Homo sapiens: one gene and its partners. The protein of the gene in region 4 interacts with the protein of the main gene of each other region in a biochemical or structural test. Each region holds a gene or a part of one and is shown on either strand. Other genes may lie near its edges.

What was found.
Region 1: the proteins of MAP1LC3A (region 4) and ATG7 form a complex in vitro, tested with the Homo sapiens proteins (2 studies listed by BioGRID, with this or other methods).
Region 2: the proteins of MAP1LC3A (region 4) and MAVS form a complex in vitro, tested with the Homo sapiens proteins (2 studies listed by BioGRID and IntAct, with this or other methods).
Region 3: the proteins of MAP1LC3A (region 4) and NBR1 form a complex in vitro, tested with the Homo sapiens proteins (2 studies listed by BioGRID and IntAct).

Annotation. Positions count from the first base shown.
Region 1 is NC_000003.12:11,310,393-11,317,416, reverse strand, and holds part of ATG7 (ubiquitin-like modifier-activating enzyme ATG7), read right to left. Parts: intron 4,114-7,024; coding exon 3,997-4,113; intron 2,074-3,996; coding exon 1,924-2,073; intron 1-1,923. UniProt on the Homo sapiens protein: E1-like activating enzyme involved in the 2 ubiquitin-like systems required for cytoplasm to vacuole transport (Cvt) and autophagy.
Region 2 is NC_000020.11:3,841,954-3,849,845, forward strand, and holds the start of MAVS (mitochondrial antiviral-signaling protein), read left to right. Parts: upstream 1-4,880; 5' UTR 4,881-4,950; intron 4,951-7,892.
Region 3 is NC_000017.11:43,188,199-43,195,222, reverse strand, and holds part of NBR1 (next to BRCA1 gene 1 protein), read right to left. Parts: intron 6,182-7,024; coding exon 6,104-6,181; intron 5,636-6,103; coding exon 5,421-5,635; intron 4,615-5,420; coding exon 4,447-4,614; intron 3,852-4,446; coding exon 3,642-3,851; intron 2,130-3,641; coding exon 1,970-2,129; intron 1,876-1,969; coding exon 1,585-1,875; intron 874-1,584; coding exon 724-873; intron 260-723; coding exon 184-259; intron 1-183. UniProt on the Homo sapiens protein: Ubiquitin-binding autophagy adapter that participates in different processes including host defense or intracellular homeostasis.
Region 4 is NC_000020.11:34,554,444-34,560,853, reverse strand, and holds MAP1LC3A (microtubule-associated protein 1 light chain 3 alpha), read right to left. Parts: upstream 2,137-6,410; 5' UTR 2,117-2,136; coding exon of another isoform or gene 1,986-2,116; coding exon 1,946-1,985; intron 1,647-1,945; coding exon 1,591-1,646; intron 1,508-1,590; coding exon 1,401-1,507; intron 1,119-1,400; coding exon 956-1,118; 3' UTR 509-955; downstream 1-508. UniProt on the Homo sapiens protein: Ubiquitin-like modifier involved in formation of autophagosomal vacuoles (autophagosomes). While LC3s are involved in elongation of the phagophore membrane, the GABARAP/GATE-16 subfamily is essential for a later stage in autophagosome maturation.

The DNA of each region.
Region 1 (7,024 bases), on a different chromosome or scaffold from region 4:
TTGTAAAGCACTGTTCAAACTGTTATTATTTTGGCAGAGCTGCACTTTGGGGAGGACCACTTATTTACCACATACAACCTGACCTACGGTCGCTTCCAAACACAGGCCATTTAATCCTGCCTGCTATGACAAGAGGACTTCACACTAGATTGGACTTTAAATTATTAACGGTCTTATTGCTATACTAATTTAGCTGTGGTTCTGTGAAATCACCTGGGGGAAAGAATTTTAATAAAAATTCAATCTTCAGTCCTCAATTTAAAAAGGGCTTCCTCTGGGCCAGGAGTGGTGGCTCACGCCTGTAATCTCAGCACTTTGGGAGGCCGAGGTGGGCGGATCACAAGGCCAGGAGATCAAGACCATCCTGGCTAACACGGTGAAACCCCATCTCTAATAAAAATACAACAAAAAAGGGGAGGTGGGCTTCCTCTGAAAAATAAAATGTAAATGTAGTTGATTTTAAAATGTGCTTTTAAAAAAAAAAGTCATCCTAAGTTCAGGCTAAAGAATAACCAGACCGTCAGTTAAAGGCTTTCCTTTTTTCAGCTCTGATATATTCACATGGCTATGGAGATGATTCCATTTGATTTCAGAACTTCATAACACTCATAATCTTTGATATTTTTAATTCATAGTCTCCTGTATGGCTAAGACAACTTCCTATATATCTGATCACTTCTAAAAGACATTTACGGTACTCTTTCATTCACTCAAAAGAATTTTATTGAGGGCCTCAGACAAGTACTAGACACTATGCAGACACAAATTCATAAGACTTGGGCCCTGCCCTCTTGGAGCTTACAGTCTAATATGGCACAAAAAGAAACTTGTACAAGGTACTGGACCTGCAAATGAGGATCAGGGAATAAATGCAGTGACTTCAGATAGGGATAGATCATATATGGCCACACCATGATAATGCTTCACAGTGGAGATAGAATTTCAATAAGACAGAGAGAATTTCTTAGGGTTTTCACAAGTAGAACATGTTTTAGGAAGATGATACAACACGAGGAAAAACAAAGATACAAAAAAAGTTTTAGATGTATCTGACGGGAAGGGGATGGAGATTCTGGAGAAAAATAGATAAGATTAGCTGGAGCAATGCTTTATGAGGAAAATAATGGAAGATAAGGCAGGAAAGGCAGCTTGGAGCCAGAAGGAAGACACCATTATGCTCTTGGTCAATGAATGATACACTAAATGTGGGTAGTTCAAGGGAGATTCTTCTACAGTAGTGTTGCACAACATGGAAACAAGATTCTAAGTGTCCAGGAGTGTGATATGAGGGGCCTGAACTACAGGGTAGTTCTGGGAATAAAAATTAAAACATAGAGGGTAAAATACATCAGGAGGGAAAACGGAAATAACTTTAGCACTAATAGAGAGTAAGGTATTGGCTGGGCACAGTGGCTCACACCTATAATCCCAGCAGTTTGGGAGGCCGAAGCAGGTCACGCATTCAAGACCAACCTGGCCAACATAGTGAAACCTCGTCTCTGTCTCTACTAAAAATACAAAAAATTAGCCAGGCATGGTGGCGGGCACCTATAGTCCCAGCTACTCGGGAGGCTGACCAGGAGAATCGCTTGAACCAGGAAGGCAGAGGTTGCAGTAAGCCAAGATTGCGCCACTGCGCTCCAGCCCAGGCAACAGTGCGAGACTCCATCTCAAACAAACAAACAAAAAAAAAGAGTAAGGTATCAAAATTATTCTGAGCTGTAGTAGAGCTAGAAAAACCTAGAGGAGCTGATTCGATAACTGTAGGGGTGGGAGAGGATAGAGATAAGGAAATGTTCTTAAACATCCTTTGAAGGCTAAGGAAATCTAAACAAGTTTGAATTTTGCAGTGGTCTCTTGTAACATGAACTTCAGATTTTTTAAAAAACTATATAATAAAATGATACTCAAAGTTTATCTGACCTTCGTCCTTTGACCTTGGAAGAAATCACTGTAGTGTTTAAGCAAGGAAACCAGCACCATGTTCTCATCATACTTGATTAAGAAGTAAGGAAGAGCTGTGACTCCTTCTGTTTGACAAAGATTATCATATGCACACTCTAGTGCTTCAATCTGAAAACAGAAAACACGTTGTTATTCTCTAGAAAATTACATTTCTAGTTCTGGGCTAAAAACTAACTCAAAAAAAAGGTACCTTAAAACCAGAAGACTAGAAATGACTGATCACACTCCTCTTACTCTATTACAGCAAGTGAACATAGAAGTGCCTCCAAATAATACCACTTAGCTTTTATATAACACTTTCCAGGGGCATGGTGGTGTGTGTCTTAGGGGCACAAAGGGACTACAACATGGTAGTTCCCTAAGCTGTCAATCAGAGTTTTAGAGCGGTAACGAAACATTCTTTCTCTCCTATGATAACCCAACATGAATCTACCCCTGATGAATTTTACCCCGAACCTTTCCATAATCTTCAACAGCTTTACTGAGACATGACTAACATACCATACAACTCACCCATTTACTACTTTTTGAGACAGGGTCTTGCTCTGTCACCCAGGCAATCACAGCTCACTGCAGCCTCGACCTCCTGGGCTCAATCAATCCTCCTACCTCAGCCTCCTGAGTAGCTGGGACCACAGGCACACACCACCATGGCTCAGCTAACTTTTTTGGTATTTTTTATAGCGATGGGGTTTCACGATATTGCCCAGGCTGGTCTTGAACTCCTGAGCTCAAGTGGTATGCTCACCTCTGCGTTCCAAAGTGCTGGAATTACACTATAGTTGTGAGCCACCGTGCCTGGCCCAATTCACCCATTTAAAGTACATAATGCAATGTGCTGTTTGTTTTTTTAGTATGTTCACAGGGTTATGCAAGCACCACAGCAATAATTACAGAACATTTTTGTCCTCAATAAAAGAAACCCCATACCTGCCAGCAGTCAATACTCAGCCAAAATCCTTTTTCCTTACTTATATTTCCTCTTGGGAAATTAGTTCCACAAAACCACAACCTCGGATTTGTACGAACAACAACAAAAAAAATTTAATCAATAATGGCTGCTCCCTGAACAGCTCCAAGAGAGCTCCCTGAATGATGGCATCAGTATTCAGGGCTTTAGTGATTGATGTGTTTCAAGAATTCAAATCATCTTGACACATAATCTTTGCCTTAACAACAATAAGAATTCTCTAGTTTAGGGTCTCTGTTATACCAGCCTGATTATTTTAACTGCTCTTCTGGGAACCATCTCTAATGAACTTATTATCTATCCCAAATGTCACCGACTAACTCTGCATGTACTGCTCCAGGTAGAAAAGTTCTGCAACTTGGTACAAGGGTAGGAGAATGCCTTCTGTTTTGTTTCAAAGACTCTTTCCCAGACTATACTGCCTTATGTTTCCCCACATTGAAAATGAAGACCACATTTTGGTAAATTCTTTCAGTGTTTCAAAATATTCCTATAATTCCCCCTTACTGGCTTAGCATTTCACCAAATACCACTGAAAACCTGGAAAATTACTGTGCACTACATCTTCAAAATGACTTTACAGACCAGGCAGGGTGGCTCATGCCTGTAATCCCAGCACTTTGGGAGGCTGAGGTGGACAGATTGCTTGAGCCCAGGTGTTGAAGACCAGCCTGGCCAACATGGCAAAACCCCATATCTATTAAAAGACAAACATTAGCCAGGTGTGATGGGATGCCTGTAGTCCCAGGTGCTCAGGAGGCTGAGATGAGAGGATCACCTGAGCCTGAGAAGTTGAAGCTACAGTGAGCAGTGATCGTGCCACTGCACTCCAGCCTGCGTAATGGGGGTGAGACCCAGTCTCAAAACATATATAAATATATATACAAAAAAATGACTTTACAAACATTTTCTAAATAAGTCTGCTCCTAGTACCACCTTTGGAGGATTTCAGTTACCACGTCTTCATCCAGAGAAGTGCCTGTTTGTCTTTGGAAAGAACTACATAACTACTCTTGCACATTCAACCCAATTTTATGTGCATTTTGGTTATTTGTTGATACCTGTTTTAGTGAAAACCTTTGATCCAAACCCACTGGCCCCTGAATGAGAGGTAAACTCTCTGGAAGACAGAGGGCAGGATAGCAAAACCAATAGTAGAAGTGGTACTTCTTTAGATCCTAGAAAAAAAAGTATAAATAAGTTATTAGAATAGCACCATTAACTTAAGGTGAAATGCATCTATTAATGTAGCTTCTCAAGGCCAATTAAGATAGCAAAGCTATGCAAACAAAGTCTGTCCAGCTTATCAAATATCCTCATCCCCAACAGAACTCATGATCAAATAAAGGACTTTTGTATTCCCAAAATAGTCTCATATACCACCACTAATAATATGATGACAAACATAATATACTTTATTGACCACTTGCTAACAGAAAATGTGCAATATGTAATTGATATTATCATCATCATCCTTTAACCTACAAAACCCCCCTGGGAGGTATTTACTATTATCCCATTTTATAAACAGAAAACTGAATCTTACAAAGGGGTAAAAAACCTAAACAACAACAAAAAAGATGGCAAGGGGCAGAGAAGAGATCAGAACTCTGCTTCCAAAACTTAAGCTTTTTTCCACTGACCATAGATACTTAATGTACTATCTACAGAAGCACAACTTCCAAACAGTTACCATTCTCTTCACAATCAAATAAATTACATGTTATTAAGGAAGCTGTGCTATTCACATATGTATGCATGCCTGAAATAATACAATATTGCTTTTGTAAATGGCTTAGTGGATTTAAGTCAACAACTATCAAGCCCTTGCTATGTACAAGGCAAAACATAAGACACTGACAATAAGATGAATAAACCCCAGTCCCAGACACCAGGCAGCTCACTTTGTGGACAGAGCAGAGATAAAGCGAGTGCATGATTAGAGCCATGGAGAGGCTCTAAGTAGTAAGCTGGATGGGTGAATAGAAGAGGTTACATCTTCACGGGTATATCTGACCGATCCCCCACCAGGGTAGGAGATCCAGGGGAAAGGATTTGTGAGGCTGTCTTTGACACTGTTCCCACTCACGCTAATGGCTCTTGCTTCAGAATTCTTACAGCTTTTGGGGCCTTAATTAAATTCATGGTAGCATTCCAGACATATGTGGGTATTTGGCAGCTTGCCTACAAGCCTGTGACCACTGAATATGAATGCAGTTTATGTAGCTAATTAATATTTCTTCTTGAATCTTGCTAAGAATTAAAATTGGATGGTTGTTAGATGACTTTTTATTGAGATATAATTTACGTTCCATAAAATTCACCATGTTAAAAAGTATACAATTTAGTGGTTTCTTTTTAGTATAGTGATATGGTTGTACCATCATCACTATTAATTCCAGAATATTTTCATCACTCCAAAAAGAAATCTCATACATATTAGCAGAGACTCCCCATTCCCCCTCTTCTCATCCCCTGGCAACCACTAATCTATTTTCTGTCTCTGTGGATTTTCCTAGTCTGGACTTTTCATATAAATGAAATCATACTAGATGAGTTTTAAAATGTAAATGTATATGTAATCATGTGTACAGATGAGAAAGTCTAATAATTGTAATCTCTGCGGTCTCTAATTCTGCTATTCATTGATCAACTAAGAAAAAATTCCCTCTTCACAATGGCAAAATGAACTGCAAAGCTGAAATTAATGAACTGTCTAGTCCTATGAGTCCTAAAAAACAGCAGAAGGAAAGCAAAAACACCTCCAGAGATTATTTTCTCTTCTTTGTACTTAAATGATTTGTCATAACCGATATTTAGTAAAAGGTTAAACAATTCAAGATGAAGAAACTCACAAAATCTTTTTTTTTTTTTTTTTGGAGACAGTCTTGCTCTGTCACACAGGCTGGAGTGCAACGGCACGACGATCTCAGCTCACTGCAACCTCCACCTCCCAGGTTCAAGCAATTCTTCTGCCTCAGCCTCCCGAGTAGTTGGGACTACAGGCTGCCATGCACAGCTAATTTTTTTTTTTAATTTTAGTAGATACGGGGTTTAACTATGTTGCCCAAGCTGGTCTCAAACTCCTGAGCTCAGGCAATCCGCCTACCTCGGCCTCCCAAATCGCTAGAATTACAGGCATGAACCACTGCACCCGGCCGGACCTCACGAATTCTAAGAAACTTTATCAGGTCATTTTCAAAAGTCAAAAAGCTTGCATTTCTTAGGATTCTTTTCAGGATAGAAATGACCTCCATTAAATTAAACATAAAGTCCTTGGTGTCTGAAGATTTTAAAAAGTAGATACTTACAATTTTTTTTAAGTCAGGCTAAGAATGCTCAGTAAACAAGGCAGCAAGACCAACACACATACTGACTCTAGGCAAACCTTAAAACTTTAAGTAAGAGCTAATGTTATTTTTCTCATTAAATGCAAACTGTCAGCATGTTCTACTATGAGAATTCTTGGTACAGAAAGCGTACTGACGTTCAAGTAACTAGAAATCTTTAACTAGCAATGCTTACAATTTATCCCAGTAAAGAGCCTACAGGCTGCATGCGGTGGCTCATGCCTGTAATCCCAGCACTTTGGGAGGCCGAGGCGGGCGGATCACGAGGTCAGGAGATCAAGACCATCCTGGCTAACACGGTGAAACCCCCTCTCTACTAAAAATACAAAAAATTAGCCGGGTGTGGTGGTGGGTGCCTGTAGTCCCGGCTACTCAGGAGGCTGAGGCAGGAGAATGGCATGAACCTGGGAGGCAGAGCTTGCAGTGAGCCGACATCGCACCATTGCACTCCAGCCTGGGTGACAGAGCGAGACTCCGTCTCAAAAAAAAAAAAAAAACTACAGAATTACCCAAACGTATAGACAGATTATTAATGCCAAACTGAGCCAAGTAATCAGACAAAAAATTTAAACATTTTTCTCTCTCCTCCACTATTACATAGAAAGCATTATAACTTGTTAGAAAATGTGTTCCTTGTAGATAGCCACCCACTGGCCTTGTTTGATTGCTATCATACCCTCCTTTGCCTTGGGCAATAAATCAGAGGCCTCCCCTGCATCTAGGAATCTAGGAGGAACGG
Region 2 (7,892 bases), about 31 Mb from region 4:
GTGAGGCCAAGGCAGGTGGATCACAAGGTCAGGAGATCGAGACCATCCTGGCCAACATGGTGAAACCCCGTCTCTACTAAAAATACAAAAATTAGCTGGGTGTGGTGGAGCATGCCTGTAATCCCAGCTACTCAGGAGGCTGGGGCAGGAGAATCGCTTGAACCAGGGAGTTGGAGGTTGCAGTGAGCCAAGATCATGCCACTGTACTCCAGCCTGGTGACAGAGTGAGACTCCGTCTCAAAAAAAAAAAAAAAAAAAAGAGTCAAGTCATACACTTAAGTTTGATATATTTCACTGAATGTAAACTGTGCTTCAAGAAACAAAACCCTTCCATGCACAAAACACCTAGGGTGACATCTGTTTCCTGCACTGAATATCTGATTTTGGGAGAGGAGCCCTAGGACAAGAGACAGCAAGAGGGGCTGAGAGCAAGCAGGGCACCAGAAGCTGGGAGCGTGGAGGGACGTGACCAGGGAGAAGTCCCCTGTGTTGGGGGAGGCCTGTGAATTTTAGGAACTCTGATATCTAACTCTCAAGGCATGTCCTTGCCAAGCAGCAATACAATTAAGTGTGCCTAATCTTATGGCTCCCACACTTTCAATTGTTCTTCCTGAAACAATTAGATATGAAGCCGCAAGAGCCCAGGCAGGGCTGGATTGATTCTTGAACTAATCAACATTTATGCCCTCTTGGCTAAACTAGGCAGAGTTGGTTTTATTACAGTTCAGATGTGATTAAGCACACTGTATTGTGTCAGCGGCAGGTGACGAGCCACACAGTGTCCTGAGGCCTGATGAAAGGGCTATGCCAACCACAGTCCCAGAGGAGGAGCTGGCTGTAGCAGCGACTGACCCAGGAGCTGAAGTGAGCCAAGCCCCCTCCTCCTGAGACCCCTGAGAGGTAAGGCAGGCTCATGCCAGACCCTATTACGTCCCACATCATGGCTAGAACCAGAACCATCTTACATGGCTGGTCAAGGCAAGGATAACCCCAGGAAGTCAGAGGACTTGGAGACTCTGTATTGTAGGAAAAAAAAAAAATACTAGAAAAGACACTGGAGCGTCACCAGCAGTCACCCCTGGATGGTGGCATTATTATTATTAGTAGTATTTTTTTTGAGATGGAGTCACTCTGTCGCCCAGGCTGGAGTGCAGTGGCATGATCTTGGCTCACTGTAACCTCCGTTTCCTGGGTTCAGGCAATTCTCCTGCCTTAGTCTCCTGAGTAGCTGGGATTACAGATGTGTGCCACCATGACTGGCTAATTTTTGTAGATGGTGGCATTATGAATATGGATTTTGGTTTTCATCATCAAATATTTCTGTTTTCCCCACATTAGCTGTAAACAGTATATATTTTTGGTAAATTAAGTTGAAAGAATGAAAAAATTAAAATAGTATAAAGAATATCTGTTTAAGTGCAGTGGAGTGTGCCTGTGGTCCTAGCTACTTCGGAGGCTTAGATGGAAGGATTGCTTGAGCCCAGGAGTTCAAGACCAACCAGAGCAATGTAGCAAGACTGTGTCTGTTTTATTTTAAAAATAAATAAATAAAACATAAAGAATAACTGTTTAAAATACTATTCAAAATGAAGTCATAAAGGAGGGGATTATGTTTTTTAGTCATAGTTCCCTCAAGGGCTCAGACCGGAGAACATAACCGAGTTTGGAGCCCTCTGGCACTGTCTTTGCGCCTGACCTCTGCTCTCCAGGGGGTGACGTGAGCTGGTGGGTGCTGAGTCATCATGGGTGGGTCACAGCCTCCCTCGGAGGCCTGGAGATGGGCCTGTCTGTGCTGAACTTTACTGGGCAGGGGGCAGCTCCAAGGCCCTCACTGGGGGCAGCCTAGAGCATAGATCACTCTCTGGACTTGCTCTTCTCCTAATAAATGGACAGTGATCAATGAATTACACCCATGAAATAGGGTGGGATGCAATAAGAAATAAAAGATAATATAAATAGCCAGATAGGGTCAAAAGATGATTTATTTTACTTTATATTTTTGAAATAATTTCAGATTTACAACATAGTTGCAAAAATAATGCAAATGTTTACATCTTACATAACCCAGTACAATGATCCTAACACTGACAGATTGTTGTTGTTGTTGTTAATTTGAGACAGAGTTTCACTGTTGTTGCCCAAGCTGGAGTGCAATGGTGCGATCTCGGCTCACTGCCGCCTCTGCCTCCCGGGTTCAAGCGATTCTCCTACCTCAGCCTCCTGAGTAGCTGGGATTGCAGGTGCCCACCACCATGCCTGGCTGATTTTTGTATTTTTAGTAGAGACAGGGTTTCACCATGTTGTCCAGGCTGGTTTCAAACTCCTGACCTCAGGTGATCCACCCACCTCGGCGTCCCAAAGTGCTGGAATTAGAGGCGTGAGCCACCATGCCCAGCTAGATTATTGTTAACTGATCCAAAAGCCTTATTTGGATTTCACCTGAAGTCCTTTTTCTGTTTCAGGATCCAACCCAGGTTCCCATATTGCATTCAGTTGTCATGTCACTTTGGTGTCCTTTTCTCTGGAGCAGTCTCTCAGTCTCCTTGTTTTTCCTGACCTTGAAATTTTTGAAGAGTTATTCTGCAGAGCAGTGCTATCCAATAGAACTTTCAGTGATGATAGAAATGCTCTGTTTGGGCCTGACGCTGTGGCTCACACCTGTAATCCCAGAACTTTGGGAGGCTGAGGCAGGCAGATCACCTGAGGTCGGGAGTTTGAGACCAACCTGGCCAAGGTGGAGAAACCCCGTGTCTACTAAAAATGCAAAATTAGCTGGGCATGGTGGTGCATGCCTATAATCCCAGCTACTCGGGAGGCTGAGGCAGGAGAATCGCTTGAACCTGGGAGGCAGAGGTTGTGGTGAGCCGAGATCACGCCATTGTACTCCAACCTCAACAACAAGAGTGAAACTCTGTCTCAAAACAAAACAAACAAAAAAAATAGAAATGCTCTGTGTCACCGAGTATGAAGCCATTAGCTACATGAAAATAGCATTTGAAATGTGGCTCATGGGCCAGGTGCAGTGGCTCACGCCTGTAATCCCAGCACTTTGGGAGGCCAAGGTGGGTGGATCACTTGAGGTCAGGAGTTTGAGACCTGCCTGGCCCATATGGTGAAACCTCGTCTCTACTAAAAATACAAAAATTGGCCGGGCGTGGTGACATGCGCCTGTAGTCCCAGCTACTCGTGAGGCTGAGGCAGGAGAATCACTTGAACCCGGGAGGCGGAGGTTGCAGTGAGCCGAGATTGGGCCACTGCACTCCAGCCTGGGTGAAAGAGTGAGATTCTGTTTCAAAAAAAAAAAAAAAAAAAAAAAAGAGAAATGTGGCTCGTGGGTCTCAGGAACTGGCTTCTAAGTATTATTTAATTTTAATTAAAATAGCTACATGTGGCTAGTAGCCATTGTATTGGATAGGACAGCTGTCAAATGTCTCTCGTTTTGGGTTTGCTTACTGTTTCCCTATGATTAGTTTCAGATCATGAGCTTTTGATAGGAATACCATAAGCATGTTGTTGTGTTCTTCTTTGTCTAAATCTTTATAAAAGCTGTTGATAGGTGGCAGGGAACCACCTAGTCAGGCAGTGGGATTGTTTGAATGCTCTTTGAGGTCCAGCAAAGACAGGAGTGATAGCTGCACTTGGAAGCCCGCTCCTACACTTTCAATGTTCTTCCTGAAAGAATTAGATATGAAGCTGCTAGAGCTGCTCCGGTGGGGAGCAGGCAGGATTGATTCTTGAACTAATCAACATTTATGCCCTCTTGGCTAAACTAGGCAGAGCTGGTTTTATTACAGTTCAGGTGTGATTAAGCATACTTTGTAAATGCTGAAGGTTGTGAAATATTCACAGGGATATAAAGTACAGTAATAAAACCTCACTTGAGGCTGGGCGTAGTGGCTCACGCCTGTAATCCCAGCACTTTGGGAGGCCGAGGTGGGAGGATCACCTGAGGTCAGGAGTTTGAGACCAGCCTGGCCAACATGGTGAAACTCCGTCTCTACTAAAAATACAAAAATTAGCCGGGCGCAGTGGCATGTGCCTGTAATCTCAGCTACTTGGGAGGCTGAGGCAGGAGAATTGCTTGAACCCAGGAGGTGGAGGTTGCAGTGAGCCGAGATCGCGCCATTGTACTCCAGCCTGGGCGACAGAGCATGACTCTGTCTCAAAAAAAAAAAAAAAAAAAAAGAATAGAAGACCCTGTGCCTGGAAGATCGTAGGTGCTCAGTAAGTGCTGGCCTCTGCCCCAGAAGGGGAAGGGCGAGGCAGATGGCAGGAACTGCGGGAGGTACCTGTCCCAGGCCCTTGGGCGTAAGAGGCCTCTCCCACGCAGCACCCAACCCATACCCAGCCTGCCCGCCAGCCAACCTTGGCGTCCCTGCCTTGCGCCTACCTACCCAGCAGTCCCCCGCCCGCTCCCACTCCCACAGGCCCAGCGTGCACGTCTCCAGGATAGGCATCCTTGCCCCTGTGACTTCAGCGGCACCCAACGTTTATTGGGCACTAACTGTATGCCAGGCCATGGGGGTGCCGGAGAGAACGACACGAAGACCCTCACCCCTCAAAGTTCCCAGGGGGAGGAGGGGCTGCTTCACTTGGGAAGCGTGGGGATGGAATTCTCAGCCCCCCGATGACTCCGAGGCCGGCCACCTGCCTGGTTTCTGGCCGGACACCGGACTTCCCCTGGAAGTTGCTCGAGACTGCGCGCCCCCAGCAAAAAATCAGGTCGGTTCTCCGAGCCCAGTCTAGCGCTTCCCGACCCGCAAACCAAGGCCCAGTGACCGTCCCCGCTGCGCAGCCGCCTGCGTCGCCAGCCAACCACGCGCGGCCGAGTAGCCCCGCCCCTCCACATGGCCAATGGCCGCGCGCTCTGCCCGCCCCGCCTCCTCGCTGCGGGAAGGGTCCTGGGCCCCGGGCGGCGGTCGCCAGGTCTCAGGGCCGGGGGTACCCGAGGTAAGATCGCTTCCCGGGCGTTGGGTCCTTTCGGCTCAGCACGCACGGACGCCTTTAGGGAAGGTGGCTGCAGCGGCAGGACGGAGTCCGCCGGGACGCCCTGGGTCTGGGGTGCGCGGGGGGCCCAGGAGGGGACAGGACGCGCGGGGATCCGGAAGAGCGGGCCCTGTCGCAAGAGTTTCGGGAACACTGAGGGCTCCAGGCGCCGCATCCAGCATCCGGGGAAAAGGGGGTAGGTGGCGCTGGGCGTCTGCTCAGGCTGGGGGAAAGGTAGGGCCAGAAGGGGACGGGCAGCGGCCGCTGACCTCCTCCTGCCGCCCGCGGGCCCAGGGTGACGCTAAGGTGGGGCCGAGCCTCGACCGGGTGCGCCTAGAGGTCGAGTGCTGCCGCCCTCCGCTGGGTCTGGACAGTTCTCGGCGGCGACACCAGCTCAAAACGGCCTCCCCGCCCTCCGCGGACCTGGGTCGCGCCCAGGAATCCGATCCAAGGCTGTGAGGCCTGTCCCTTTGGGAAGGGTGGGTGTTTATTTCCGGGATGCACTCAGAGCCTCTGGACAGTCAGGTCGGAAACTTTGCTGTATTGGGAACACTCTGTCACCTACTTCCTTCTCAGTTGGGAAGGAAGTGCCAAGAAAACATGAAACAAACCAAAAACACGAAAAAGGGATTCTCTGTATGGAAGCCGTGAAGCCTCAAAAATATCTAGGAGGACAGCCAGCGACCTGGGACCTGTGGCAGCCATGTGAAAGCAGGGTTAATGTCTGGACTAAATGTTGCTTCCACCTAAGTGCACCCTCAGCCTCCCTCCCGCCAAGTGACCTTGGGTCCTCTTTGGGCTTGAAGGCAGGTGGCTGTGTGGGTCTCGCTGCAGGGGTCTCTGTGCCCTGCAAGGTGTATGACCAGTTGCAGTGAGGCAGCAGGTTTTGGGTTCAAATCCTGTGCTAGCCTCTGGCCAGCTGTGCACCTTGGCAACACTTTCCCTGTCACGGGATTGGGGAAGGATTAACTGAAAGAACCTTAGGATGTGCCTGTCTACAATGGGCCCTCCATAAATGTGAACAAATGTGGGCTTCCTTTCCTTTTGTTTGGGCCACATCATCCCTTCCCCTCCATCTGTGGCTGAAGCTGGAATGCAGAAGAGTGCCTCATCTGACTGCCTTCTGGTACCTGGCTGATGCCATGAGAAAGGAAGGAGAAAGGGGTCTTTTTTTTTTTGAAATGGAGTCTCACTCTCTTGCCCAGGCTGGAGCGCAGTGGTCCAATCTTGGCTCACTGCAACCTCTGCCTCCTGGGTCTAGAGATTCTCCTGCCTCAGCCTCCTGAGTAGCTGGGACTACAGGTGTGTGCCACCATGCCTGGCTAATTTTTGCATTTTTAGTAGAGACGGGGTTTCACCATGTTGGCCAGGCTGGTCTCAAACTCCTGACCTCAAGTGATCTGCCTGCCTCGGCCTCCCAAAGTGCTGGGATTCCAGGCGTGAGCCACCGCGCCCGGCCGAGAAAGGGATCTATTAACTCCCATAGAGTTGTTCTTTGCTAATTTCTTGAAGGCTCAGAGGACCCCCGCCTCACCTTCCTGATTCTCCTGACCTGTCATTAGTACTTGCCCCACGAGGAATGTAGCAGGGCCTGCTGGCTGGCAAAGCAACTCATGCATGTGAGGCTCTGAGGCCAGTGACAGGACTGCTTCCCCTGTGAGGAAGGTCTGGTGGCCCAACAGCTTTTAGGTGCTGTCTGCTCTACAGCACTGCCTCCTGAGAGAGGTCTCATGCCTGCCTGATGCCCACTTGGTCCTCTCCTGCCTCCTTCCCTCCCTGACAACCCACTTGGAATCCAATAGCATCTCAAACTTCACTTGTTCCGAACTGAGTTCTGGAGTCCCTTCTGAGCCACTGCTCCTCCCCTGGCTTCTCTGGCCTGGTAAAAGGGCACCTTCCATCCACCCAGTGCCCAAGGAGTCATGCTTCTTTTCTCTCCCTTATCTCCTACACCCTCAAAACACCAGGAATCTGGCTGCCTCCTGCCATCTCTGTGGTTCCCATCCTGACCATAGTCATCCTGTCTCCTGGGCTGTGGCCTCCTTACTGGTCTCCCAGTTTTCATCCTGGCCCCTCCAAAGTCCTCACAACCACCAGAGAAGTCTTTAATGTAAATCAGATCCTCTTCTTTCCCTGCCGGAACCTTCCAGTGGTTCCCTGTTTCACTCCAACTAAAACCCAGAGTCCTTTCCTACAGCACTCTACATGAGTGGCCCCTGCCACCTCCTTGACCTTGACAATCTCTGCCCCTTTCCCTAGCTTGCTTGCTTTTTTTTTTTTTTTTCCTATGATGGAGTTTTGATCTTGTCACCCAGGCTGGAGTGCAATGGGATGATTTCAGCTCACTGCAACCTCTGCCTCCTGGGTTCAAGCGATTCTCCTGCCTCAGCCTCCCGAGTAGCTGGGATTACAGGCGCCCACCACCATGCTAATTTTTGTATTTTTAGTAGAGAAAGGGTTTCACCATGTTGGCGAGGCTGGTCTCAACCTCCTGAGCTCAGGTGATCCACCCGCCTAGGCCTCCCAAAGTGCTGGGATTATAGGCGTGAGTCACGCAGCCAGCCATCCCTAGCTTTCTTGACCTAGACCACACTGACCTGCTTTCTATTCTTCAAACATGCCAAGCTCATTCTTGTTTTAGGACTTTTGCATTTACCATGCTCTCTGCCTAAAACACCAATCTTCTCAGAGCCTGAGAACAGCTCAGCTGTGTTCTGCACGCTAGTTCAGAAAGGCTTCTTTGACCCCCTAGTTCAAGTAGCATGCCTGTCTCCAGGGGCTCTGTCTCATTACCTGCTTTACTTTCTTTAGAGCCTTTATTGCTATCTGGAACTCTTATTTGGGTATTAATTTACTGATCTGTTATTTGTCCCACCCCATTAGAATATAAATTGGATGTGGCATAG
Region 3 (7,024 bases), on a different chromosome or scaffold from region 4:
CATGTTGTTACTTTTGACAAAGGACAGGAAAGAAGAAAAACGGATCCATGATTGCTGCTTTACTATCCTACTGTGGGAGAAATCCTTGCCATTTCCTCAGAATAAAACACTACCAGTGTCTAGGCTGTGGTACTTTTGTGCCTATTAGTAAGACGAACAAGATGAAATGAGTGACATTCTTACCCACAGGGGTGTTGTGGGGCACTCTCTCCAACTCTTGAACAATGTTTATATCCAACAGCTCAAAGGACAGCAGGTCCTATAAAAAAAGACAATGTTAGGCTGTTTGGAGTGCATGCTGGAGCCATGTCTTGATGGGACCTGTAGACCATTTCCACATCATTTCGTATTCAACTCTGTTCAAATTCATGCCTGTCCCCAGACAAGTGAAAACAAGAAGAGTTAAATGGGAATTAGATGTTGAAATAACCCAATAGCAGGAAAGAGAAAATGCAGCAGGTATGAAGGAGAATTAGCTAGGCCAAGGTGAAGAGGCAACTAAAGGGAGTTTGTGGGGAAGTACAGGATTGAGTTCCCAATTCAAAGAGGAAACATCTAGTTTACAAACTTGCTTCCATGGGTGATCTCCTTCCCATTAAATATACCTGACTAGATCAAAGTGGGCATATCTCTGATTTCCTGATTACTGCCTATGGCTCTACCACCTTCTCTCCTGTGCTCTCTCCCTCTGTCCCTTGCCCTTCAAAGTGCTGAATCTTCCACCTGGGCAGTCAGAAGATCCACAGATGGGATGTAGAGCTCCCTCTCACTGGCAACATTTTTTGCCTTCTGTGGGATGCAGGCTGCTGTCCCTTCTGTCTGCTCAGTCACTTCACCAAGCTGTCTTTCTTCTTTAGCCAGAAGAAAAGTTTCCTATAGAGACAAACCATTGAGACAAATTTTAGGCCTTCAACAGAACTGAAGAGGCAGGCTGACAATGCCCCCAAAAATAAAAACGCTGCTGTACCTCCATATTTTAAAAAACAATGTTTTTGATATATTTTTACAGTTATAGAAAAAGTTGTAAAAACAGCAGAGAGAATTCACATTCCCCAGCTTCCCCTAATGACGATAACTTATATTAACTATAATAGTCAAAACCAGAAAATTAACATTGGATAACTTTAAGCAGTAAACACTCTGCCCCACTAATACAGAGAAATTGCATTAAAAAACTGTTCACTAAGTAGCAACCAGGGCAAGACTTCATTAGTATTTAGGGAACATACACAGGGTATTTCAGGAGAGATGGATGTTAAGGAGTAAAGCTATCAGTTCAGCAGTTCCACAGGCCAGCCCAGGCCAGGAGTCCCTTTTTCCCTTGTGCAGCCAACAGGCTGACCATGCAACATCACAAAGAGGTACAAAAGTATTCAGTATGCAGCAAGACCCTAAAGACGCTAAAACAAACACCCTAAGGAAGAGGCCAAATATCAGCATAGAGATGTGTTGGGGCGGGGGGAGATGCTAACCTTTCAAGGTTTCTGGAAAACAACCAGCTATGAGTGGGTTCTTTTAGTTTTAGCCATCTCCTCTCTAACTAAGATTTGGATACTAGGCCAAAGCCTGTCAGTCAATGCTCACCTCTTGCTGGCAGGTGAGATCATCAGTTTTGCTTGAGCTGATCATGCCCTTTTCAATGTTATCAGGGCTCTCTTCGGAGGGGAAAGGATCTACTATGATACTGCACCAGACCCGAGGCCCAAATTGCTGGCCTTTGTGAGAAAGACGCCAATGGGAAGTATACGTTCCCTCCAAGGCTGGGGCAATGAACTCCACAGATACAACTCCCACATGGCCGGCCTTGAGGCAGGGAACCAAAACATCCTTCTTTTCTGTGGAAGCCAAAGTCAGGTTTCCCCACATGAACTTGAGCTGAAAAGAACAGTAAGAAGAGAAAGCAAGCTTGTCAGCTGAGCACTCTGCCACTTCAAATCACCTCATCTTTGCATTTTGTGGGAAAAATTACCTTTGTGTCTGCACTCCACTTTACATTTCCTGTATTTTTCATCCTCCAGTGTTTGATAAACTTGGTTCCTGGCTGAAGGTGAGTCCCATCAGGCAAATTCTCATCCACAAATGCTGCACTGAGCATTGGCATAACGGAGGTACAGGGCTGCAAAGGGAGCCTGAACAGAAATTCAGATGCTTAGTCACTTGCTGTTGGGTGTGAAGGCTTCTGAATACCTCACACTAGCTTGAGAGTCTGACTGTGACTCTTGAAAATGTGCTAACCCATTTGCCTTAAAAATAATACTGATATTACTAGTATAGGACCACATATTAGAAACAATAAATTTTCTGACAAACTTAAAACAATAAAACAAAACAGAGGATAGGTCTCACTCCTGAGCTAAAAAAGTCATGGTAAGAGTAATTAAAAGGGCCTATAAATACAACACCTAGAGAGTCAGGCTTTTAACACATTTGTTCCTTTTGCTTCAATTCCAGATTGCCTCCAATGAAGAGAGGGACCCCGCCATTTTGAACTTTAGTGGTTTCTATCTTTCTGAAGAAGGAAACAAAACAAGTGTCAAAAATAACTACGAAACTTGGCCAGGCGCGGTGGCTCACGCCTGTCATCCCAGCACTTTGGGAGGCCAAGGCAGATAGATCACGAGGTCAGGAGATCGAGACCATCCTGGCTAACACGGTGAAACCCTGTTTCTACTAAAAAATACAAAAAATTAGCTGGGTGTGGTGGCGGGCACCTGTAGTCCCAGTTACTCGGGAGGCTGAGGCAGGAGAATGGCGTGAACCCAGGAGGTGGAGCTTGCAGTGAGCCGAGATCGCGCCACTGCACTCCAGCCTGGGCAACAGGCGAGACTCCAAGACTCCGTCTCAAAAACAAAACAAACAAAAAACTACCAAACCACCCTTTAATAATACTAAGACCACGCCAGGCAGGCGCAGTGGCTCACACCTGTTATCTCACCATTTTGGGAGGCCAAGGCGGGCGGATTCATGAGGTCAGGAGTTCGAGACCAGCCTGACCAACAGGATGAAACCCCATCTCTACTGAAAAAATACAAAAATTAGCCGGGCATGGTGGCATGCACCTGTAATCCTAGCTACTCAGGAGGCTGAGGCAGGAGAATCACTTGAACCCGGGAGGCAGAGGTTGCAGTGAGCCTAGATCATGCCACTGCACTCCAGCCTGGGCGACAGAGCGAGACTCCATCTCAAAAAAAAAAAAAAAAAAGCCGGGTGCTGTGTGGCTCATGCCTGTAATCCCAACACTTTGGGAGTCCAAGGCGGGCGGATCACGAGGTCAAGAGATCGAGACCATCCTGGCTAACACGGTGAAACCCCATCTCTACTAAAAATACAAAAAATTAGCCAGGCGTGGTGGCGGGTGCTTGTAGTCCCAGCTACTCAGGAGGCTGAGGCAGGAGAATGGCGTGAACCCGAAAGCAGAGCTGGCAGTGAGCCGAGATCGCACCACTGCACTACCGCCTGGGTGACAGAGCAAGACTCTGTCTCAAAAAACAAACAAACAAAAAATACTAAGACCAGATAATGGAAAGTTTTAAAGATTTAGGTGTTAAGGGCTACCAATAAATAAGACGGAAATTGGTTGAAGTTCCAGTTTCAGAGAGCTGGGCCTAAAGTTTTGGCTCCCACCCCAGTCCTGGGCTTACATCAGGGTATTAGACTGGAGCAAGCTCTCAGGTCGGCCTAAAGGAGACTTGGGGCTCTGGAGTCCATGGATTGAATTCCACAGGTGAATTTTCCTATGGAGTTTAAGCTGCTTTTTAAGTTCCTTGACCTCTGCTTTACGTTGTTTCTTCTCAGCTCGCAACCTTTGCTTTTCTGCTTTAAGAAAGTTCTTATCAACCTGTTTCTGGAGCCTGTGAGATAATAAAAGCAAGTCTTAAAAGAAAGTCACAAATAAATTCTGAAGCTATGTGGAGCCAATTGCAATTTCCATCAGTGTCAGCTTCCAGTTTAATTTCTTTTTTTGTTTTAGAATTAGGGTCTCACTCTGTCATGTAGGCTGGAGTACAGTGGTCTAATCATGGCTCCCTTCCACCTCATATTCCTGGGCTCAAGCAATCTGCTCACCTCAGACTCCCAAGTAGCTGAAACTATAGGTACGCACCACCACGCCTGGCTAATTTTTAAATTTTTTTTGTAGAGGCGGGATCTTGCTATGTTGCCCAGGCTGGTCTCAAATATTTGGCTTCAAGCACTCCTCCCACCTTAGCCCCTCAAGTTGCTGAGATAACAGTTATGGGCCATTGTGCCCAGCCTACTTTAGTTTCTTAATTTCTTTTTATAGCTATTATTTCTATTTCACTAACTTTGGATAACTGTCTTCATTATTGCACATCAATTGAAAATGAGCAGAACTAAGGAGACTATCTGTAGTTTTGTGATTCATACCCTGTCACCAGAACCAAGAAGTCAATCAGAGAATAAGCATCTCCATGTAGAGGGTTTTACCTGACTTGTTCCAGAGCAGCAGGAAGACGAGGAGTAGAGTACTTTGAGTGACAGAACGGTTCAGAGGAGCCCACAACAGGTCTCCGCAACTTCAGCAGGACGTGGTTAGTGTCATGGCCATATGGCCCTGCTTCACAATCTTCACAGATATTGTAGGATGGGCATAGGCTGTGGGGAAAGAATGGCACAATACACAATGGCAGAATAGGAAGTACCTGGGGTAGGGAGATATAAGACCATACTTCTATGTTTGCTCCAGTACCAACTAGCAGGTAACCTGAGCATGCCATCTGACTATGCCATGCCTCAATTTTCCTCATTAATAAAATGAGGATAATAACACTTAACCCATATCCATTTTAAATGAAAATCTATGGGAGGAAGGTAAGATGTGAAAGTACATGGGGCCAGGCACAGTGGCTCATGTCTGTAATCCCAGCACTTTGGGAGGCCATGGAGAAGAGGATCATTTGAGTCCAGTAGTTTGAGACTAGCCTGGGCAATATAGGGAGACCCCATCTCCAAAAAAATAATTAAAAGGCAGTCTGTGATCCCAGCTACTTGGCAGGCTGAAGTGGGAGGATTGTCTGAGCCTGGGAGGGTGAGGCTGCAGTGAACCATGATTGCACCCTGCACTCCAGCCTGGGTGACAGAGACCCTGTCACCAAAAAAAAAAAAAAAAAGGCATTTGGAACAACCGAGGAACTACCCTTAGTGATCTAATTTTGTCCGTTCAGGGGAACATAATTTTGCCTGGCTTTGCTAATCCAAATGCACATTTGAACACAACAATCTGAATAGTTACAACATACAAAGCATGTGGGTGAAGAGTAGCTTGTGCTTCCAACTCACAGCTACAACATCTAATGCTCAGAAACAGGGTACAATTAATTTCCCTTTACCTACACAGAAAGCCAGGGAGGTAAAAGCTGTAAGGTCTATCACTAGCTAGCTACTCCCAAGCAACTGCTTACCTACACTGGTAGCGGACACCAACAATCCTTCTTTGGCAGTTGTTGCAAGCAATATGCCAGCTGAACTGGTTTTCTGGCAAAAACAATGTTTCTTCTGAAGTAGGCATTGAGACTTCTGAGGGACAAGAACCCAAGGATGGGTTCTGGAGGACAAGCTTTTCATGTAATTTCTGTTCAAGCTTCTCAACCGTTTCGTTAACCACTTGTTCTCTGAACTAGAATATGGAGCAGAAGGTAGGGAAAAAACTCAGTTCCAATATCAGAAAAAAATGTGAAGATATCAATAGATCTGAAACCTAACTGTCTCTGGTATAATACAAAAACACAATAAACAACTGCTACTGAATAGACAGAAACATAGCAAAAGGTCTATTCCTTCCACAGCTAAACTGGTTCGAAGAAAATATCAAAACATCCTTTTGATAAGTAAATTTCTAACTTTTTCTCAAGCAGAGAGTTGTCCCTCTCCCTTACATGCTTAGAATTAGACTCCCTCTTTTTCTGACACTTCACTGCAAAGGTTAGAGCTTTCTCGACTGGAACTGTTCTAAGTTTGGAAATTATAAGCTACCACTCTTCACCGGTACTAGAGGCAGCAGCCACCTGGGTTCAGTTTTCTATTTCTTCCACATTCCACCTGTGCCAACACCGCAGTTAAAACCCAAGCGAGACAGAACACTCACCGTCTCCAGGTAGCTTGTGAACCAGTCTGGGGGCTTGTCTTGAGGCTGGTCTGTGTCACATGGAACAAGTGGAAACGACTGGGAGAAAACACAAGCCGAGATGTTAGAGGTTACTTTTTCTATTTAAAATACTTTTCCTGGAGTGTATTATTTTGAGGTTTCTTTTGTGAAATCATACAAGTATATAATTTTTTAAAAAGTCACAGTATGAAGGCGTACTAAAGGAAAACAAAGTCTCTAGCCTGCTCCCCTTCTACAGAAGTAAACTATTACCAGTTTCAAAAGTCAGAGAGAGGAGCACACTAATTCCCAAATCTCTGATAAATGTGCAAATCTTACAACAAAGACAATGAGAAATAAATCTAGAAATTGGATAGACTGAAACAGGCAATGGGGAAAGGATTCCCTATTTAATAAACGGTGCTGGGAAAACTGGCTAGCCATATGTAGAAAACTGAAACTGGACCCCTTCCTTACACCTTATACAAAAATTAACTCAAGGTGGATTAAAGACTTAAACATAAGATCTAAAACCATAAAAACCCTAGAAGAAAACCTAGGCAATACCATTTAGGACATAGGCAGGGGCAAAGACTTCATGACTAAAACACCAAAAGCAGTGGCAACAAAAGCCAAAATTGACAATGGGATCTAATTAAACTAAAGAGCTTCTGCACAGCAAAAGAAACTATCATCAGAGTGAACGGGCAACCTACACAATGAGAGAAAACTTTTGCAATCCATCCATCTGACAAAGGGCTAATATCCAGAATCTATAAGGAACTTAAACAAATTTACAAGAAAAAAACAACCCCATCAAAAAGTGGGTAAAGGATATGAACAGACAATTCTCAAAAGAAGACATTTATTCGGCCAACAAACCTATGAAAAAAAGCTCATCATCACTGGTCATTAGAGAAA
Region 4 (6,410 bases):
CAGGGCTGCATGGACCTCAGGGGGCTGTGGGGCCAGAAGCTGGGCCAAGCCCTCCAGCCAGAGTTGCCAGCAGGCGAGTGCTTGGGCAGAAGAGGTTCGAGTCCAGGGTCACAAGTCTCTGGTACCAAAAGGGACCCATGGCTGACTGACAGCAAGGCCTATGGGGAAGAACTGGGAGCTCCCCAACTTGGACCCCCACCTTGTGGCTCTGCACACCAAGGAGCCCCCTCCCAGACAGGAAGGAGAAGAGGCAGGTGAGCAGGGCTTGTTAGATTGTGGCTACTTAATAAATGTTTTTTGTTATGAAGTCTACCCTGAGACCACATCTGCATTGCACTCCTAGAGGGGGTGGCCCCTAATAATGTTCTGGAACACTACACACAGGTGTGGGTTTCCAGAGCGAGCACCGCGGCCACAGAACACAAGTCTGTGCGCCAGAGCCCGGGGATGGTGCGGGCAGCCCCACCAGCACCCTCCCCACTCCCAAGCAAGCGGCTGGAGGCACAGGGCCAGGCAGGCCTGAGCAATCTTTATTCTGCAGAGGGACAATGACCACAGATCCATACACCACGTGGAGACCGAGGGGCGGGGAGCCAGGGGCCAGTCTTTCAGGGGTGGGCAGGTCCAGGCGGTGGGCAGAGCCTCGGGTGGGTGAGGGGCAGATGGGCAGACAGGCAGGGGCCTAAAAAAAAGATGAACCACACAGCAGGGGTGCTGGGAGCTGCTCCCCACCCTCCCCCATCCCACCAGCCAGCACCCAGAGGGACAACCCTAACACGACCGGCCCAGGATCCACCCAGGGGCAGAGTAGGTGGGTTGGTGCCCTCTGACTAGGGGGGCACATGCCTGCCCAGCCCACCACGGTAGAGGCAGCTCAGTTCAGGAACCAGGAGCTCTCTGGGCAGGGCCTGACCGGGGCCGCCCGACTCCCAGGCCGAGCCCCCCTACTGCTGGCTCAGAAGCCGAAGGTTTCCTGGGAGGCGTAGACCATATAGAGGAAGCCGTCCTCGTCTTTCTCCTGCTCGTAGATGTCCGCGATGGGCGTGGACACACTCACCATGCTGTGCTGGTTCACCAGCAGGAAGAAGGCCTGCGTGGGGTTCAGCTGCAGGCGGCGCCTGCAGCCGGCGGGAGAGTATGCAGCTGTGAGGGGCTTGGCTGCGGGACGGACATAGCCCTGACCCCCAGAATGATTCCCAGCCTTTCACACCCATTCTCACCCCAGCTGTCACCTCTGACCCAACACCGACTGCAGCCCCGACCTTGACCTTTCCAGCCACCCCAGAACAGGGGCCCACCGCCCGGTCCCATCACCCCTGACCCCACTCCCACCCCTTCTCGGCGGGAACCCGGCTCCCCTCCCGACCCTAGCCACCTCCTGGCGGCGGCTGCCCACGCACCGGATGATCTTGACCAACTCGCTCATGTTGACATGGTCCGGGACCAAAAACTTGGTCTTGTCCAGGACGGGCAGCTGCTTCTCACCCTTGTAGCGCTCGATGATCACCTGGGAGCAGGGCGGGCGGGCAGGGGGTCGTGTCGGGAACGCGCGAGGCGGGGGCGGGGCAGGGCTGGGGGTGCGGGACTCACCGGGATTTTGCTGGGGTGCTGGTCGCGGATCTGCTGTACCTCCTTACAGCGGTCGGCTGCGGACAGCGGCCAGACCGTGAGGCCGGGTCGGGCCGGCCCAGGTCCGCCCCGCCTGTCCCGGAGGGGCGGCCCCCGGCCACGCCCCAGCTCCAGCCCCCACCCCCGGGGCCATCAGGCCCCACAGCCCCTGGCACCTATCGCGGTGGGGAAGCGGGCAGCCCCCGCCCAGGCCGGAGCTGGTCCCAGCCCGAGGGTCCAGCCAGAGCCTGACGTCACGGGGCTGACGTCACCTGCGGCAGTCGGGGTCGGCCGGCACCCCTGCCCCAGAGCTCGCAGCTCGCCTGCCGGGCCTCACCGAAGCTCCGCCGCTGCTTGAAAGGCCGGTCTGAGGGCATCGCGCGGGCCCGGCTGGGCGCGCAGGCCGGGGCTCTGGGGCGCGGGGATGTGTCTGCGGTTTGGGGGCTCCGGGGGCTCCGCGCCTCGCGCTCAAGGGCTCCGGGGCTCGCGCTGAGCACGGCGGCTGCGGCTGCGGGAGGTAACTCGCCCGGTGACGTCAGGTCACAACATTCCTTAAAGGGGAGGCCAGTGCGCCGCTCCCATTGGGCCGACGCACAACCCGCCCGCCCGGACCCGTGACGTCACGGCGCAGAGAGCCTGGGTCCGCGGACCGGGACGCGAGGGGCGGGGCTTCTGGGCGCGTCACAGTCCCGTGACGTCATGGGCAGCGCGGGAGCTTCTCCCGCAGCCCGAACTCAAGGTAAGGCCCGGAGGGCGGTGGGGCCGCCCTAGGCCGATGGAGCGGGCGGGCCAGGCTGCAGCCCCACGGCACCACTTCCCGCCCTCACCGAGTCTGTGTCAGGACTGACGCGGTTCTGGGCGCCGTGGGAAACAGCCGGAGCCAAAGGCCCGGCGCCTTCACGGGGCTTAGGGCGAGAGAAGGGAGAAGGTGCGGGAGGCACAGTCAGACACAGGATAGAACAGGATGCTAGAAATGAACGCCCAGGTTTGAAAAAGAATAATATAATTGAAAAGTAGAGCCATCGAAATTCAGGTCTCAGAGGATGAGGTGAGAAGGCAGAAAAGGACAACAGAAGAGAAATCGTGGACCTGGAGGCTGATCGGAAGCAGCTCACCAGAGAGACAGGTGATGGGGAATAAGGAAAAGGGCACAGATGGCAACGCCAGGAGAACTCGCGGGCCCGAGCAGAGCTCCAGAGGCGAACACTGAAAGACCTGCAGAGACAGTTCCTGAAAAAGAGCTGCCAGAAATGATGCTTAAAATCCAGAGCAGAATGCGCAGACTGAAGATCAACATTTTTTTGGGGGAGGGGGGAGGGGGACGAAGTCTCGTTCTGTCGCCAGGCTGGGGTGCAGTGGTGCGATCTCAGCTCACTGCAACCTCTGCCTCCCGGGTTCAAGCGATTCTCCTGCCTCAGTCAGCCTCCTCAGTAGCTGGGATTACAGGCGCCTGCCACCACCCCCAGCTAATTATTGTATTTTTAGTAGAGATGGAGTTTCACCATGTTGGCCAGGATGGTCTCGATCTCCTGACCTCGTGATCCACTCGCCTCGGCCTCCCAAAGTGCTGGGATTACAGGTGTGAGCCACCACGCCTGGCCGCCGAAATAATTTTTAAAGAATGTAGTTTAGTAACAAGGACATGGAACCCAAAAGGAAGAAATTAGATGGAAAAATGGTGAGCAAATTGGTAAACATGTGAATCTAAACAAGCATTTAATATGCAATATGAATAATAATGATTAATTTGTGGGCCACAGAAACAAGATGCATGAGACACAAGAACATGGAAGACTGAGAGGGCAATTTGAGAGGGGGTTAAAGAGACTGAGCATTGTCTGGCTTTGTAAAGTCAGGTGTGTATTTCAGATATTTAAGAGGATCACCAAAAGAATACAAACGGAACTATAACTGCCAATGCAGAGAAAAGGGTAGTGATGGGTATTAAAACTATAATGGAAGGCAGAAAGGGAGAAAAAGGAAGCAAAGTAAAAGGGATGGTAAATATATAGTACAAAACCAGAGGTAGAAAATGTGGTTTACATTCACCTCTTAAAACACAGATGACCAGATTGGCCAAGAAAAAATAAGATGCAGCTCTATGCTATTTACAAGAGGAAATTTAAAACCTAAGGGCACCAAAAAGTAAAACGATGGGAAAAGGTGTACTAGAGAAAAACTAACCAAAAGATGTACCTATAGAAAACTCAGACAAAATAGGCCTTCAGGCAGAAGACACTGGGGATAAGAGGATCAACATGAAATGATGCGAGGAGGAACTCTGTGAAGAGAGGAAAGTTCTGAACTTCTATGTTCCAGGGTTTTTGTTTTTAAGGCTGAAAATAGGCCAGGCGCAGTGGCTCATGCCAGTAATCCCAGCACTTTGGGAGGCCGAGGTGGGTGGATCACTAGAGGCTGGGAATTCAAGACCAGCCTGGCCAACATGGCAAAACTCTGTCTCTACTAAAAATACAAAGATTAGCTAGCTGGGCGTGGTGGTGCACGCCTGTCATCCCAACTACTCAGGTGGCTGAGGCACAAGAATTGCTTGAACCTGCTAGGCGGAGGTTGCAGTGAGCTGAGATTGCGCCACTGCCCTCCAGCCTGGGCAACAGAGTGAGACTCTGTCTCGAAAAAAAAAAAAAAGAGGCTGAAAATATATTAAGAACACAAGGAGAAATTGCCAGGTCCTCCATCATAGGGAGACATAAGACCTCTTTGAGTAACTAATAAACCAAACAACCAAAAAAAAAAGGACATAGAGGATGTTAATACAGTTACTAATCAAGATCAATGAACCCCAATAGAAAACCTGACAGTTAGTTTTTTAACTTTTAAAATTTAAATTTCAGACCTGTGTGAGACCAACACATTATTTTCAATCACACAAGGAACATTTACAAAAATGACCCAACTACTAGGGTGCACGACAAATCTCAACAGATATCAAATCAGTTTCAACCATATTCTTTGGCCACAGACAAAAGCCGCGTAAGCTCCAGCTGTGTGGAAATTTAAACCTATTCTAAATATGAAGTCATATATAAATAAAAATTATTTAGTTCAAACAAAAAATGAGGATACATATGCTAAGAAAACTTGGTGGCCGGGCGCAGTGGCTCACGCCTGTAATCCCAGCACTTTGGGAGGCCAAGGCAGGCGGATCACGAGGTCAGGAGATCGAGACCATCCTGGCTAACATGGTGAAACCCCGTCTCTACTAAAAATACAAAAAATTAGCTGGGCGTGGTGGCGGGCGCCTGTAGTTCCAGCTACTCGGGAGGCTGAGGCAGGAGAATGGCTCGAACCTGGGAGGCGGAGCTTGCAGTAAATGGAGATCGCGCCACTGCACTCCAGCCTGGGCGACAGAGCGAGACTCCATCAAAAAAAAAAAAAAAAGAAAGAAAACTTGGGAGGGGGGCCATGGCAGGCCAGGTGTGGTGGTTCATACCTGTAATCCCAGCACTTTGGGGGGCCCAGACTGGAGAATTGCTTGAGCCCAAGAGTTCAAGGCTGCAGTGAGCTGTGATTGCAGCTCTGCATTCCAGCCTCGGTGACAAAATAAGATCCATTTCTTTAAAAAAAAAAAAAATCAGATTTATAGCCTTATTACATAGATGTATTACTTAGATAATAAATACAGAAAATCCATGAGCAGAGTTTCAAAGAAATTTAAGAAGGAGTAATAGTGTAATCCTAGCACTTTGGGAGGCCCAGGTTGGAAAATCATTTGAGCCCAGAAGTTTGAGACCAGCCTGGGCCACATAGTGAGACCCCGTCTCTACAAAAATGAGAAAATTAGGCCAGGCACAGTGGCTCACGCCTGTAATCCCAACACTTTGGGAGGCTGAGGTGGGCAGATCACTTGAGGCCAGGAGTTCGAGACCAGCCTGGCCAACATGGCAAAACCCTGTCTCTACTAAAAATACAGAAGTTAGCTGGGTGTGGTGGTGCATTCTGTAATCTCAGCTACTTGGGAGGCTGAGGCACAAGAATTGCTTGAATCCGGGAGGCAGAGGTTTCAGTGAGCCAAGATCATGCCACTGCACTCCAGCCTGCGTGACAAGAGTGAGACTCTGTCTCAAAAAAAAAAAAAAATAAGAAAATTCGCTGGCTTTGGTGGCACACACCTATAGTCCCAACTACTCAGGAAGGATCGTTTGAGTGACAGAGGCCCTTTCTCAGAAAAACAACAAAAAATGCTGAAAACAAACAAAAAACAACAACAACAAAAAATAGGCCAGGTGTGGTGGCCCACACCTGTAATCACAGCACTTGGGGAGGCCAAGGCAGGCAGATCACTTGAGTCCAGGAGTTGTAGACCAGCCTGGGCAATATGGTGAAACCCCATCTCTACAAAAAAAAAAAATACAAAAAATACAAAATACAAAAATTACAAAATACAAAAAAATTAGCTGGGTATGGTGGCACGTGTCTGTAGTCCAGCTACGTGGGAGGCTGAGGCATGAGAATTGCTTGAACCAGGGAGGTGGAGGTTGTAGTGAGCCAAGATTGTGTCACTACACTCCAGCCTGGCGACAGAGCGAGAGACCCCATCTCAAAAAACAAAAACAGGCCGGGCGCGGTGTCTCATGCCTGTAATCCCAGCACTTTGGGCGGCCAAGGCAGGCGGATCATGAGGTTAAGAGATTGAGACCATCCTGGCCAACATGGTGAAACCCCGTCTCTACTAAAAATACAAAAATTAGCTGGGCGTGGTGGTGCATGCCTGTAGTCCCAGCTACTTGGGAGGCTGAGGCAGGAGAATCACTTGAACCTGGGAGGCGGAGGTTGCAGTGAAC